Linked DNA regions of Homo sapiens: region 2 is linked to region 1. The links come from fine-mapping of genetic effects on gene expression. A gene starts in region 1. The other region holds a variant in brackets. All regions are shown on one strand. Distances are between the middles of the regions.

Evidence for each region.
Region 2: its variant is fine-mapped to the expression of BAIAP2L1 in whole blood (TOPMed, PIP above 0.99).

What each region holds. Positions count from the first base shown.
Region 1 is chr7:98,399,747-98,402,246 of GRCh38, forward strand. BAIAP2L1 (BAR/IMD domain containing adaptor protein 2 like 1) reads right to left here and starts at 1,344. Exons shown (of 14, transcript NM_018842.5): 1 at 1,056-1,344. The coding sequence starts at 1,106. RefSeq lists a silencer at 1,018-1,677.
Region 2 is chr7:98,282,532-98,285,535 of GRCh38, forward strand. All of the region lies in intron 2 of BRI3 (brain protein I3), which reads left to right. Among named protein-coding and RNA genes, the nearest start is that of BRI3, 2.3 kb to the left of the region's middle. The variant G/C (reference allele first, on the strand shown) is at 1,353.

The sequences.
Region 1 (2,500 bases):
CTAAGTCTCTGTCTGTGTCTGGAAAAATTCTCTCCTAATACATGCAAGTTAAGAGACCGGCTATCAACGCATTCCTTAAGGTTAGGTCAATTTCATTAAAACCTCGGTTGTTCTTTGACTTCAAGAACCTCACCAAATAACCCATATATAAAAGCCAAGTTCAACTGAAAGGTGGGAGAGGAAGGGTCTAAGGAGGAGGGCGTTTCCCGGGAGAACGCCCAGAGCTCGGCTCACCTGGCGATCCTAATTACAGGGGAGTTTCACCCCCACATTCTTGGGCGCTTTCTTTTCTTAGAGGAAACTCGAGCTTGTGTCTTTGGTCCCGGAGGGCTTAAGCCCGGCAGCCAGGACAGCACGGGTCACTGATTCCAAGAAGTTGGGAGGAGGACGTGGGCCCCACCGACGCACAACAGACCCCTCCCCAACTTAAGTGCACTAGTTGTAAAATGTGTAGCTGGTCAGGGGATGGGGGGTGGTCTCCAGAGCTCTGAGGGTCAGGGAAGAGGAGAAGGGACGGGGAGGAGAAGGGACAGGGGAGGCGGAGAAGGGCCAGGAGAGGAGGGGGAGACACACGGGGAAGGAGGAAGAACCAAGAGGAGGGGGAGGGGGAGGGGGAGGGAGGGGGATAGACTGGGGAGAAGAAGGGACAGGGGAGGAGGGGGAGACACACGGGGGAGAAGGAAGAACCAGGAGGAGGGGAGGGACAGTGTCGAGGGGCAGGGGAGGAGGGAGAGTGAACGGGGAGCGGAGGGGCAGAGGGAGAGGTACAGCGGGGCGGGAAAGAGAGACAGGGAAGAAGCACAGGGAGGAGGGGAGGGAAGGAGGAGGAAAAGTAGGGGGGAGGGGATGGGGAGGGACTGGGAGGAAGGAGAGGGCCAGGGGAGGAAGAAGAGGGGCTGTGGAGGGCCAGGGGAGGAGTGGGAGAGACCGGGAGAGGTGGAAGGACGCGGGGGAGGGGAGCTGGAGGGAGGGAAAGTACCTTCCCGCGTAAAGTCCCCTTCTGAACCCCGAGGTGGAAAGCCCTGACCTCCCTGAGCCCCGGGCCCTGGGCTTACCCGGTAGGTGCTCTCCGTGAGCCGGTTCACCTCCTCGGGCCCCCGGGACATGGCTGCGGCCGCCGGGCGAGCAAGCGCGGGAGGACGCGGCTGGGCCTCGTGGCCGCCGGACTCCGGGCAGCGGGAGGGCCGGGGCGCGACTAAGGGGCTCTGGAGGGTCGGCCGCCGCCGCAGCCGTCGGCCCGAGAGTGCCCGCGCGCGTCTCCGCTGCGAAAATGTCAAAACTTGCGGCAGCGCCGCCCTGGCCTTCTTCGAGGAGCAGAGGAGAAGCGGCCGGACGCCGCCAGAGGAAGCTGGGCGGGCCGGGCGGCCCCACCTGAGGCGGGCGGGGCAGACGGGGGCGGGGCCGCAGGGCCGGAGGGGCGTGGCGTACCCACCTGAGGCGGCCTGGTGAGCGGGGCCCGGCCGGGGTGGGCGGGGAGGAGGCGGGGCCAGGCAGCTGGAATGGGCGTGGCCAGAGGGAAGCGGGCCCCCCGAGTGGGCGGGGTCACCCCACCTGTGGCGGACAGGGCAGCGAGGCCACGGTGCGCCCCCTCGCGGCTCTCCCAGAGCTCCGGCGACGTAGGGCCCGAGACCCTGGAGTGGGGACCGGTGTGGAGTGGGCTGCTCGCTTTGCTGTTTTGCTAGGGCAAGGGCAGCCTGGGGGTGTTTAGACTGTGGTCCTGGAGCCCTTGTTTGCCTCGCGTGGTGCTGGCCCCGGGGACCCCGAGGCCCACTTCCTCCATGAGGGCTTCCTTCAAGCCCTGCGTTTTGGGGACCAAGGGAAGGGGCCACATTCCCCAGTTGTATTGATTTCCCTGATTGATCTCTTCTTGCCCCGCCGCTCACTGACCCCAAAAGTTAGAGGGACCCGTGGGGGCATCGGCCCTCCTAGGTGGAGAAAACGGGCTGCCACTTGCAGTTTTGAAAGCTCCTGATATATCAAAAAATTAATAAATGCCAGGGTCTAGTTACCGAAATGTTAGTACTTTTTTTTTTTTGAGATGGAGTCTCACTCTGTCGCCTAGGCTGGAGTGCAGTGGTGCGATCTCAGCTTGCTGCAACCTCCGCTTCCCAGGTTCAAGCGATTCTCCTGCCTGGCATGAGCCATCCTGCCTGGCCCCCAGATAGAAGCTTTTTGTTTGTTTTTGAGACAGAGTTTCACTCTTGTCCCCTCAGGCTGGAGTGCAGTGGTGCTCTCTCAGCTTGCTGCAATCTCTGCCCCCCAGGTTTAAGCAATTCTCCTGCCTCAGCCTCTCGAGTAGCTGAGATTACAGGTGCACGTGCCACCAAGCCAGGCTAATTTTTTTGTATTTTTAGTAGAGACGGGGTTTCACCATGTTGGCCAGGTTGGTCCCGAGCTCCTAACCTCAGGTGATCCGCCCTGCTCAGCCTCCCAAAGTGCTGGGATTACAGGCTTGAACCACCGCGCCCGGCCCAGTAGTACATTTTTAAACTTTACATTA
Region 2 (3,004 bases), 120 kb before region 1:
TGCTTGTGGGAGTGGGTCCGGCTTGACTTGGATCTTGACCAGAGCCCTTTATGGGAGGGACAGACAGGCTGCCCGAATGCGGTGTGGGAGAGTGCGGGTCCGCTCACCCTTGGCTCTGAACACATTTTGTGGGGGCAAAAGGGTGGATTCCTTTTCCTAGATCTTGGGGCATTGCACCCCAAGTGATTGGGATGTAGAAATGGTAACAACGGGACTCGTGGTCCTTTCGTCTTTGTTCTGGGACTTGCAAGGAATCAGGTGTCTGCTTTTTCCTTCACTTTCCGCAAGTTTACTCTGCAGTTGATCGTCGAAGGTGGTGGAAGGTTTCATTTTCCCGGAAGGGGCATTTGGAAGTAAGTGCACCAGCAGGACAGACCTCAGTGGGAGAAGCGACGGCCGTAAGAGCTGCTTTATCCAAAGTTGGCTTGAAACGCTCTTCCACGAGCTGGACCAGGATGGAAACCCCGTGTTTCTTTGAGGCAGGAGTTATTTTTTTCATATCCTCGCATTGGACCTGCACACGCTTTTTGGTTTTTATAGGGCCCCGAGGTGCAGCTAGAGGCTTGTTTTGTGGAGGTTTTGAGGATTCACATTTAAATAAGGATTAATTAAATATAAACCCTTGGCAGCTGGGGGTGTTCAGATTGCTTAGAAAGTAGGGGCAGAGTTGGCCGGGACAGGGTTTTCAGCTGTGTCTCGGAGGAGGAAGTTGAAGCCACTGAGATGGAATTAAGAAACCCTGGTTTGGACTTAGACTTGATTTCAAAAGTGTGTGTGTAAGGCCTAGAGTGGAGTCACGGGGAAGTGAGTGATTTCAGAGCCTTAGCAGGCAACTTCCTGGGAAGGAAGGGCAACCTAGAGGTGGGGACAAGAGGCTGGGACCTCGGGGGCAGGTTGTGGCTGCTTGCCTGCACAGGGACCCCGTGACAAACCCTAACTGGGACGTCAGTTTGACACAGTTGGTCACCACCCAGCAGAAACATTAGCCTTTGGAGTGAAGGTGGAGGGAGGGCAGGGTGGGGCGCTGGCTGCCTTCGGGACATAGTTCTCTCCCGGAGCTGCACCGGGTTGGGGGGCTGGCAGAGCTGTGTGAGTGTGAAGGCACATGGAGGGGACTCAGAACATGGAGGAGCAGAGGGTCTGCCTGCGTGTCATTGTCCATGCCCTGCCATCCCGGTGTCCAGCCTGCCGGAGGAGCCGGGTTCCGGTCCTGGTCCTGCCAGGAACAGCGGGGCTTGTTTCCCCACCTGGGACGTGGGGGTGTCTGGTGAGGTGTCTCTGAAGCTCTTAGCTCTTCTCTGCCCAAACCCCTGAACTTGGAGAGGTGAGAGACCAGCGGCAGCGAGGGATGG[G/C]CCAGATATCCCAGGGCTGGGGGGCGCCGAGGTGGTGGCGCAGTTGCTGTCGGTATGGGGGCACTGGCCCTGCCACTTCCCCTTCCCTAGGTGGGAACTGTGTCCCTGCGGAGGCCCATGGCTTCCGCTAACCTGGAGGTGCTCTCCAGTTATGCAGAACCTGGAGCGGGGTCAGACTGTGCTCTGCTGGGAAGGATCTTGGGCTCGGCCCTCAGAGGCTGTAGGGGTGTGGGGTCCTTGGTTACTTAATCACTGCTCTCTGCCTCTGGGCAGCTGCACCAGGCAGGGTGGAGGCTGGGTCCTCTCTGGACAAGGTTGGGGGGTCCTTAGTCCTTTAAGTTGGGACCAGAGCACTCTTGGATCCTGCGGCGACCCCTTGGGTTGCAGCCAGGCCCTCCCAGCACACACGTCCCTGCGCTCTGCCCGTGGTGCCTTGGATGCTGGAGAGTGGCTCTGGCTCCCCGAGGCTTTGCCTCTGCAGCTGCATTGGGCATGGGATGGGCCCCTGTGCCCTGTGGCAGCCAGAGGGCGAGCAGGGGGCTGGGTGCTCTGCTGCTGGCGTGGGTGGGGTGTGTGGTCCCTGGGCCACTCCTCTCTGCGAGGAGAGTGGAGACGGTTCCCTGAACACACAACACACACGTCTGGCCGCTGCCTGGCGTCTTGGCCCGGGAGACAGGATACCACTCACATGACCACACTTCCTCCTGCCCCAGGTCCAGCCCGCCGGGCTCTGTCCCCCTCCCTGCCTGGTGGCATGGCAGGAATTTGCCCAAGTCACACATCTGTTAGTCCTTCTGAGTGAGGCTTGGCCAGAGAAGCCCGTGTCCCTTGTGGCTCTGCTGCCCTGGCCAGGCCTTCGCTGAAGCTGCCTGACTCCATCTTCCCTTTCTAGCCGTTTATGAGGAAGCATTTCCGCAGCCTGGCGGCGGATATGTCCCTGCTCCTCCCACCCTCCTGCTTCACCCCTGCCCTGCCCTGCCCTGCCCTGCCTTGCCCTGCCCAAGGCCTGGGCCTCCCTGAAGCCAGGTTCTCCCTTGCCCAGGGAGGCCAGTCATTCTTTGCTGGGGGTGTGGTTGTACCTAGGTGCAGGATGAGGTAGCTGCGCTGGGAGGCTCTCCTGGGCTGGAGCAGAGCCTGCGTCCTGCAAGCGGGGAAGGCAGGAGTGGGGAAGGCCCCTGGCCTGCACCAGGCCCCCATGAGTACTGGCTGGGCTGTCACTGGGTATTTAGTTTTGGGGGTGACCAGAGAGAGAGGAAATCCTGGAAAGGATTTCACTTTTCCTAGGGAAGGTGAAAAGAACAGCTGTGGAGGGCGGATGTCGCTCAGAGGTCCAGGGTGCGGCTCAGTGGCCAGCGTGGAGGCTGCCACGGCCCTTGGGGGGCAGAGGTGGGCTGTGGAGGGCACGGGGTGGTGACTGTGGAGCCCGGGAGGGGCTGGAGGGGAAGGAGCCTGTGACAGCCTTGGGCTTCCAGACGATGGAGGTGGAGGGGCTGCTCCCTCCTACCACCTGTGACCTGGAAGCCAGAGCTCCCCTGGTTGAGGAAGTGGCTGAGTTAGCTGGGATGGCTCTGCCCATATGTATGGCCTGTGGGCTGTCCCCGTCCTGACAGTCTTGGCCTGAGGTGTGGGGGCAGCGGATGGGCCGGAGCTTG